2 linked regions of the Homo sapiens genome follow. The protein of the gene in region 2 interacts with the protein of the main gene of each other region in a pairwise test. Each region holds a gene or a part of one and is shown on either strand. Other genes may lie near its edges.

Region 1 (4,924 bases), on a different chromosome or scaffold from region 2:
TCACTGTAGTTTGAAAACATCCCTTTCCAAAAGGTAGATCCCAACTCACACCTTCTGACTTATTGACTGTATTCTAGGGACCTACCCTGGACAGGTATGTACACAAGTTAGCAAAGAATGGCTGAATTAGGATGTCCACTGTACTTTCATTCATTAGGTATGTATCGATTGAGCTCTGGCTATGTGCCAGCACTGCTCTGTGCCCCAGGGATATGACACTGTAATAACAAAAAACCTGAAAACAACTTAATAGTCATCAAAAAGTGACCAGTTAAATACATTATGTAACACTCTGCAGCTCTTTGAAAAATGAGGTCAGGCTGAGCAAGGTGGCTCACTTGTGTAATCCCAATACTTTGGGAGGCAAAGGAGGGAGGATCACCTGAGCCCAGGAGTTTGAGACCAGCCTGGGCAACATAGTGAGACCCCGTCTCTACAAAACATAAAAATATCGGCCAGGCATGGTGGCTTGTGCCTGTAGTCCCAGCTACTCAGGAGGCCGAGGTAGGAAGATCACTTGAGCTCAGGAGTTCAAGGCTACAATGAGCTATGATTGCAACCACTGCACTCCAGCCTGGGTGACAGAGTGAGACCCTTTCTGTAAATATTAGTAAAATAAATAAATAGATAATTAAGTAAATAAAGAGGTCATAATGACCTAAAAAAATTCCTATAATATATGGCGAAGCAAAAAAAAACAACAACAAAAACAAAACAAAACAAACAAACAAACAAAAAAAAAAACCAAGCAAGTTACAGAACACTTTGTATCATATGACAGCGTTTGGGGGTTTTAGCACAACGCCTGGCCCAGACAGGTGCCCTAATAAATATGTGTTGAAAGAGGTAAATACCCCTGATGTGGCAGATGTGACCTCAAGCAGAAGAGAGTTCAGTGGGGCTGTGGCCTCCTTTGTTCTAGACTCTGTTGCTACTAATGCAGTGTGGAAAAGATGTTGATTTCTAGAGCAACATAGTCCCATTTGTGGCTCAAACTGAGCTTGGGGGCCGGGTGCGGTGGCTCACACCTGTAATCCCAGCACTTTGGGAGGCCGAGGCGGGCGGATCATCTGAGATCAGGAGTTCAAGACCAGCCGGGCCAACATGGTGAAACCCTGTCTCTACTAAAAATACAAAAATTAGCTGGGCGTGGTGGTGGGTGCCTATAATCCCAGCTACTTGAGAAGCTGAGGCAGGTGAATCGCTTGAACCAAGGAGGCGGAGGTTGCAGTGAGCCAAGATCGTGCCACTGCACTCTAGCCTGGGCAACAGAGTGAGACTACATCTCAAACAAAACAAAACAAAACAAAAAACTGAGCTTGGGGGCAACTTGCCTCCCTGTGAAATGGGCTGGAACACCTAGGCCCTAAGGTTATTCTCTCTTCCTACAGTCCCAGGTTCTAAAACTCCCAGTTCTTGTCAAATGGACTCCAGTTCACACTAGGGCATGACAGGATAGGAGAGAGGCTGCTGGAAACAGCACAGGTGCAAGCCTGGGTGCCTAGCAAACAGAGGAAGCCCACCCTGGGGCTGCAGGTTGGGGTACTCCCCTCCCTGGCAGGCCCTAGCATGGTCCTACAGGGAGCAAGAGCTCCGAGGGACCTAGCACAGCCCCTCTTATCCTGGGTGCCTTCCTATCCTTCCCCATTTCCTTCTCTTTCTTAGGTCAGGGGTCCTCACCCCTGGCTGTACATCCCCTGGGAAGCTTTTTAAAACTCCTGATACCTGGGCCTTGCACCTAGATATTTGCATTTCATCAGTCTGGGGTGGGAGGCCTGGCAATAGTGTTTAGAAGCTTCCAGGTGGTTTTAATATGCAGCTAAAGTACAGCCCTAGCGCCCCCTGAGGATCAGAGGGCTTCCTGTCACCAGCTCGTGGGCACTGTCCTCCCCTAGCCCCAACATCCCAAACTTCCTGTTTGTCAGGCATAGACCAAGTATGAAGGTGGCAGTCAAGGGCCGCCCACTCTCTCCCTGGCTTGTCCTCCCCACTGGAGCTGGGCTGCCTCTGGGGCCTCCTGGCTGAAGAGTTTCACCTGCCCCTAAATCCTCAAAAGTCCCAAGCCCCTCCATGCAGGTCCCTCTTCCTGGAATCCAACCTACCCCAGGAACTGCAAGGAGGTGTTGCCTCGGAGCCCCTCGGCCAGCACTTGGGCTCCCGCGGCAGTGATGTAGTTATTCCCCAGCCTGGAAGGGAAGACAGAGGAGGCTGAGAGAACACAGCGGCAGGCAGAAAAGGAGGGCCGTCTGTGCCCTGGCCAGGGAAACACAGGAAGAAAGCATTGAAGACCTGCCCGGGAGGCAGCAGCCACATCAGGTGCCCTCGCTGCTAGGTCTAGTTTACTCAGCGGCTCCCACAACTTCATTTTCCCCCAGCAAAGGGAAAGGGGCAGCGGGACGCTGTTTGCACAGCAGTGTGACAATTCCAGGCAGGAGCCACAGTAGGCAGCTGTCCTGGGAGGTGGTTTCCCCGGGACAGCGAGGGTGACTCAGGGTCACACCTTTCCCTCTGGTCTCAGCCGCCCTCGATCCAGACCCCATCGTGCCCTCTGCAGCCTTCCCAGATCTGTTGTTGCTACAGGTAGGCTTTACCTGTTGCACAAGAGCGCTGGGCAGGTCCAGGTGGCTGGAGGGAGGGGTGGGGCCCACTGAGCCTTCCAGAAAGGAAGGAGAGAGGGAGGGCCAAGGCTAGGGGTGGGGGAAGATCCCAGCAAGGAAGGCTCCTGCTGCAACTGAATCCAGACACCTCGGAGAGCTTCGGAGAAGCCCCAGAGCTCTCACCTGCAACCCTAGGCTTCCTGGGATAACTATACGCTTTCATTCTTTCAAGGAACGTCAAGCCACTCAGCTCACAACAATCCTATAAGGCAGATATTATTGTATCCTTGGAGAAGGGGTGTGGCAGCTAGGAGAACTCGCCTTTCAGGTCTCCAGCCTCAGCTCCTTGGAGGTAGCCAAGGGCCCCAGCTGCTGTGCTCCAAAATCTAACATCCTCGCATCTGCACTTGCCAGCCCCTGCCTGAGACATCAGGCTCCCCTGCCTGGTGAATTTGGTTCAAGAACTCCTCATCAGCCTTGCCAAGATGTCTTAGGACTGCACTGAAGTCCAAGGTGCCCAGTCTCAACCTTCCTTCCTTCCCTCTCTCCTTCACTCAGGGACACACCTCCCAGCCTCCCCCAGCTCCCTTCCCCACTTCCCCTTTTAGGACTTTTCCCCAATAAATGGGTGGCACATTGAATCCCTGCTTGGAGGACCGGACTCACATAAGGAGAAACAAGCTGAGTGCTTGTGTGATTTACCCATCATCTTTCAGCCACTCGCTTACTATATAAAGCCCCTGCCAGACGGTGCAGCCCTTCATGTGGATTAACTTGCTTGCTCATCACTACAGCCTGTGAGGTAGCCAGGGTTATTACCTCCATTCTACAGAAGGGGAAACGGAGGCACACAGACATTGGGCTGACCTGAGGTCACGCAGCTAATGAGGGTTCAAACCTCGGGCAGTCTGGCTCCAGAGCCTGTGCTCTCTATTACAATGATATACGGTAATCCCTGCCCCCTGCTTATCCGCAGCTTCGCCTTCTATGGTTTCAGTTATCTGAAATCAACTGCAGTCCAAAAATATTAAATGGAAAATTCTAGAGATAAACAATTCATACATTTTAAATTGCATGCTATTCTGATCACGTGCCATCCAGCTCCATCCCACCCAGGACGTGAATCAGCCCCCCGTCCAGCGCATCCACGCTCTATACGCTCCCATTTGGTAATCATCAAGATCGTCTGCTCCTGACATCCAGCTGCCGACCTCATTGTTGCTCAAAGATTAGGGATCTCTGGGAGCAGATGATTCTCCTCCTGAAGTGTGGTCAGGTCAACAGCAGCCCAGCGCTAGAGCACAGTGCTGCATGCGTCATCCACCTCACTTCCTCCCATCACACAGGCATTTTACCACCACACATCTTCCCAAGAAGAAGGGTGAGTACAGTACAAGAAGATATTTTGAGGGAGATGGAGAGAGTCCACATTCACATAGTGTTATTATAGTACATTGATTGTTATAATTGTTCTATTTTATTATGAGTTGCTATTACTCTCTTACTGTGCCTAATTTATAAACTACACTTTATTGCAGGTGTGTAGGTATTGGGAAAAGCATGGTATGTGTAGGGCTTGATACTCTCCATGGTTTCAGGCATCCACTGGGGTCTTAGAACATCTCTCCTGCACATACCGGAGGACTACTGTGTTGGCCACAAACTCAGCCTCCATTTCTGAAACTAGCACCCTTCTCAGGGATGGGCCAGCCAGGTCTGGCCACAGCCTATTCCAGGCTTGTGAGTCTGAGGGATCAGGCAGTGGTAGCAGGACTGAGTCCTTTGTACAAATTGGCACCTGTGGTTCTGATCTCAGTAGCCCTTGCCGAGACTGAGCTATGTGGCCCGCCATTTTAAAATGGCGGCTCCCATCCACAAACCCAGCCCAAGAGGTAAAAGAATAGATGGAAGCAATTCTTTACTTTGTCTTTTTTTACTGCCTCACAAATCACAGGAGGCAAGAATATCTGAGAGAGAGAGAAGGAGAGAGAAGCCAGGCCAACCCAGCGGCCAGCTAGAGGGGCAATTTAAAGGCATCAGGTAGGAGAGAGAGAGACTCCTGTTGAAACTGGGAGACACTGGAGTAGCAGAAATGCAGAACCAGATGGACTGCAAACCTTGCATGCTCTGAGTGGTGAAAGGACCTCCTGGGAGTGTTGCAGCAACTCGCTGCCACAGCTGGGGTGGCAAGTAACTGTGTATGCCTCCCCCACCAGGACGAGCTCAACATGCATCGTGGAACTCAGTAAACCCAGAAAGCTGTGACACTCTTAGACACAGAAAAGGAAAGGGGCCTAGAAAAGCTTTCTTGCCCTACGGGCTAAAGG
Region 2 (4,924 bases):
TGGCAGACAGTTTGAGGTACTAGCTCCATGTTGTGATGCTGATACAACAGAACACTGTGTACATACATATGTGCCCTCCCCTGGCACAGAAGAAATGCTTTCCTTGTGTAGACAGAGTGCTAATTAAAGGATTTTGAACATACTGATTAAAAGAGACTATGGTAACAAAGCTGCTGAGTTATTTCTGTTCTCTTACAAAAGTCTCTGCCATCTACTGTGACCTTTTTGGGCCTTGTGCAGTGGGGCATGCAATTCATTCTGGACTGGAGAGGATTGGAAGGGGAGGGGAAGGAGAGAAGGGAATGTTGGCTCAATCGGGCTGCTAGGCTCTTGGCCTTTCATTGTAGTTATTTTTAACCCCTTGTGTGGTTTAAATATGCCTAGTAACATTGCCTAATAAAGGTTTGCGTTTAATAACTAATTTATATTGTGGTAAGATTGTTAATGTTATAAATTTTTAACTTACTCTCATCTTAATTAGTTCTTTGGTTATACTTTTTCTGCCTTAATTATGTAAAATTACTGGGATATTACTGGTCATCAGGTTCTTTAATTAATAGTATCAAGAAACAATTAAAACCTGAAAGCATGCTTAAAACATGTAATTTAATGATTCACTTACTTTAATAATGCACATGAAATTCTTAGCAAGGTCTGGCAGTCTCTCAATTATCTTTTATAATAATATTATAAACTTTAAAAAGAAAACTATTTAGAGACTTGAAACATTAAATATTTAACCCCCGTAGTTGTAGGGAACATACAGTTATGGTTTTGTTTTGTTTTTTTAAACTTATTGTCCACTGAAATTAAGAAAGGAAAAAAAATCAGAAGTTTGTACTTAGCTGGGAATCTGCATCTTTAGAGTTCAAAACTGTGCAATTTTTCCTCTGATTAGGTATTATTATGTTGAACTCCAAAGGGTCATTTACATTCCTTTATAACACTGGAGCTCTGGTGTATCGAATTGTGTTATGAGATAAGCCACTAGCAGGGACTTGAACATTCCATTTTCTTTAGATTTTGTTGTATCAGCATGTGAATATGCTGAATACAACTTGTATCCTAAAGCATACAAGCTATAACATTTTCACGTTGGACTCAAATTTCTTCATCATCTGTATTGTATGAATTTTGTATACTGTTTTGTTGGTGGATTTCTAACATAAGATTGCCAGTTCCTGCTAGCTTTTTAAAAAGATCCTCAGGTTGCTGTAGCTGGATGATCACATGTCATTTAATTTCCGATCCTTAAAATGGAGTGCGGGCTACCTAAGTTTGCAGGCTGTCTTTTTATGATCCTGTGTTTATGGAATTGCCCTGAAGCCATGGAATGTGAGGATGGGTTTCATTGTAGCAGTGTGGGTTTGTTGGTTTTTGCCAGTATATTTTATAACAAGAAATAGGAGACTTGTTGGATAATTCAAGGCTATATTTTGGCCAGTTGATAAAGATTATATATTTGTGAGTAACATCTTTTAAGTTGTTATATCCTAAAGTTGAAATACTCTGCTGTGTGTTACTTTCTCATTATGTTTGGGCTCTTTTCTTCACTGTCAATATTTGGATTACCTGAAGATGATATCCCAATTCTCTGTAAACACATTTTAGATGTTTCTTTAAGAGATAAGAATTAGGTCAAACTTTTTAACATCTAAATAACAATGACTTTGATTCTCAAGAGTTAGGGGAGGATAAATTGTTATAAGCTTGGACAAAATTCTAATTGGATTTGAAAAGCAGAAGAAACTTACTATTGCTTGGATTATGGAGCCCTGTTTGGGAGTCTAACACAGAACAGAGAAGGACAGAATTGTGAAACACTTTGCTATGAATTCATTGATTCAGTAGTTATAGTAATACTTCCTAGAAGCCACTGAAGAAGATACAAAGTGGGGAGTACAAAGGTTGGATGGAAAAGAAATAAGCACAGTGCTATAGAACTAGACAGTGTCGTAAGACCTGTCACAAGTCAATATTCTATGAAATGACAGATTCTGATAAGTGTTTCTCAGTTTCAGTGGGTGTAAATCTTTTGTTTGTGGGGGTTGGTTTCCTTTAGGAGAAGTTAATTGAACTGATCCTCAAAGGATGAAATTTAAACACCTCAAAGTCAGCATTTCTCCGTGTTGTCCAGTGCCTAGTGAAGATGAAGACTTTTCTTGCCATTGCTTGACTCCAAGTAAAGCTGTGAATGTAGTTGAGCGATTCTCCAGACCTGCCAGCTGCAGTTTCCCTCCTACCGGAAGACAGAAAGACTTTCAGTCCTCAAGCTGAAATGAGAGAGCCATCCTACCTTGAATAAATGGGCCCATTGTTAATTTTAAGCTCTTGAGTATTTTCTTTTATATTCCCTCCAAGCTACCCTGTCATTATGCCAAGTTAGAAAATTAATTTAGTTTGTATAACTATATGATGTATATTTCACATGTGTGTTCACTCTGCTTTAAAAATATTAATTACCTTTTGTGTGAAGTTCAGAGACCTGTCTTTTCCCATGTGGCAGTTTTATATGTTTTGTGGTCACAAATGTCAGGAATCTCAATGTAATTCTGGATAAATTTTTCTGCTCTATGATTTGTAAAGAAATGAAAATCTTATATTTTTTAATTGAAAATTAGTAGTTTTAGAAAAAAACGCACTTATTTGATTTTAGTAAACGTTGGGCATTTTGAAAAGTTATTCAGAGAAATGTTACTGGTAGGCAGGACTTTTGTATCTGATGGAGGAAACCGATGTAGGGTTTGGATAAAATAAGACTAGCAGGCTGGGCACAGTGGCTCACTCCTGTAGTCTCAGCATTTTGGGAGGACAAGGTGGGAGGATCACTTGATACCAAGAGTTCAAGGTTACAGTGGGCTGTAGTCATGCCACTGTACTCCAGTCTGTGCCACAGAACCAGACCCTGTCTCAAAAAAAAAAAAGAAAAAAAAAAAGGTAAGAATAGCACTTTAGACCTTGGGAAAGAACGTTTTCATGTAACTATTCATCTACTCGTGAGTTAGGTATATCTACCTACTTAAACTAAGAATAGATAGATAATAGATAATGTACAGCTGTATATTGGAATGACTTGGATTTAAATCTTAGCTGGAAAATCAGTTCATTAATTTGAGCTTCTGATTTTCTTTGATGTATGGGAAATGCTTTATAAATTAAAAAGTATACAGGTAGATTTGATTATTATTAATAATTTGGAGCCTGTGAGCTTTCAATTTTTTTTAGAACTTCTGAGGCAAAGAGCTTTTCTTTATGATAGTTGCTAGTCACACTACATGTGAATACACAGTTGAACAGTGGTCTTTGTCTATGACATCCTGTTAGCAGTAGTTCTTACCCAGATTCCCATATACCACAGGACCAGTTATATCTTTTTCCCCCAGTTACAACTGTATTGAGGACAAATCAGTTATGATTTAGTTATTTCTAGAAGCAAACGTTGCTTTAGACAAAAAAGGAGTTATTTAGCATCGTATGAGAGAGAATTATGTTTCAACTTTGGCAGATGAGACTCTAGGCCTTTATTTCAGTATCTGAGATGCAAAAAATATTGAGTACGTGACATAAAATTTGACAAAACTAGATATTAGCATGTGAAATAACAATATGTGGATCTGTTTGCAAATAAATGACCTAATGGAAATGAAAAGAGAAAACATTAAGTAACTAAAGAGCAGTGACCATGGTGTCTACTGATTCTTTAGGTATTCTATGTGTTGGGCCACTATATAGTCTTGTTGAGAAGGCAGGTTTGGTTCCTTAATTAACAGAGAGGGAAAAATCACTTTTCTAGCGTACTTTGTTTTTATTAAGAGGTTTTTTTTTTAAAGGTAATAAACTAAGAATGGACAAAGCAGAGAATATTGAATGAGTATCCCCTTATTCCTTCACCTTTCTTATTTTTTTGTTTCCTGTTTAAGTATAGTTATCTACCCTTCTGTAAATACTCAGATTTCTTTTATAGCTGATGTTGTCACCCATTTTTTATGACAATTACTAGAACAGAGTTCACCAACCTTGTTGGCATTTAGTAACTGGACTCCCAACTGGGCTAAGCAGTTGTAGTAAATGTCCCTAATAGGCGTAAATAGAGGAGAGTAAAATGAACTGGAAATGTTAATAGGAGGGAATGAGAAAGAAAAAGTTAGATGAGAGAAAAAAATAAAGAGGACTTTTTAAAAGGCTGCAGCGTGTCACCCAGGCGGGAGTGCAGTGGCGCGATCTCGGCTCACTGCAACCTCCACCTCCTGGGTTCAAGCAGTTCTCTGCCTCAGCCTCTTGAGTAGCTGGGATTACAAGCATTCGCCACCATGCCCAGCTAATTTTTTTGTATTTGTGGTAGAGACAGAGTTTCACCATGTTGGCCAGTCTGGTCTCGAACTCCTGACCTTTGATCCAGCCACCTCAGCCTCCCAAAGTGCTGGGATTACAGGCGTGAGCCACTGCACCCAGCTTAATTTTCTTTAGGTAAGACATTCATATGGTTCAAAATTCAAAAGATACACGAGCGTATAGGGGGAAATGTCTCCTGGTGCCCTGCTGTTCATTTCCTCCTCCTGGAAGCCACCTGTGTTAGTAGTATACTTCCAGAGATAATCTATAGGTATATCTCCTCCCCACCCTCCTTTTAACACAAATAGTATGCTTAATAGAAATACTTTTTTTTTTGGCATTTTGTTCACTTAACCCAACATCAGTAAATATATCTTCATTCTTCATTCCTTTTTTACCACTACACTGTGTTTGGATTTGTCATAATTTTTTAAATCAGTTCCTATTGATAGACAATTAGATTTTTTTCTAGTCTTATGCTTTTACTGACACTGCAGTGTAAGTTTTGCCCATATATGTATATATATATGTGTAGACATTTAAATTTTTTCTAGTCTTTTGCTTTTACTGACATTGAATTTAAGTTTTGCCT

What was found. Proteins that work in one complex are often made in the same cells at the same time.
Region 1: the proteins of PDLIM5 (region 2) and NOD2 interact in a two-hybrid assay, tested with the Homo sapiens proteins (one large-scale study listed by BioGRID).

What each region holds. Positions count from the first base shown.
Region 1 is NC_000016.10:50,717,187-50,722,110, reverse strand, and holds part of NOD2 (nucleotide-binding oligomerization domain-containing protein 2), read right to left. Parts: intron 2,187-4,924; coding exon 2,103-2,186; intron 1-2,102. UniProt on the Homo sapiens protein: Pattern recognition receptor (PRR) that detects bacterial peptidoglycan fragments and other danger signals and plays an important role in gastrointestinal immunity.
Region 2 is NC_000004.12:94,457,709-94,462,632, forward strand, and holds part of PDLIM5 (PDZ and LIM domain protein 5), read left to right. Parts: intron 1-4,924. UniProt on the Homo sapiens protein: May play an important role in the heart development by scaffolding PKC to the Z-disk region. May play a role in the regulation of cardiomyocyte expansion. Isoforms lacking the LIM domains may negatively modulate the scaffolding activity of isoform 1.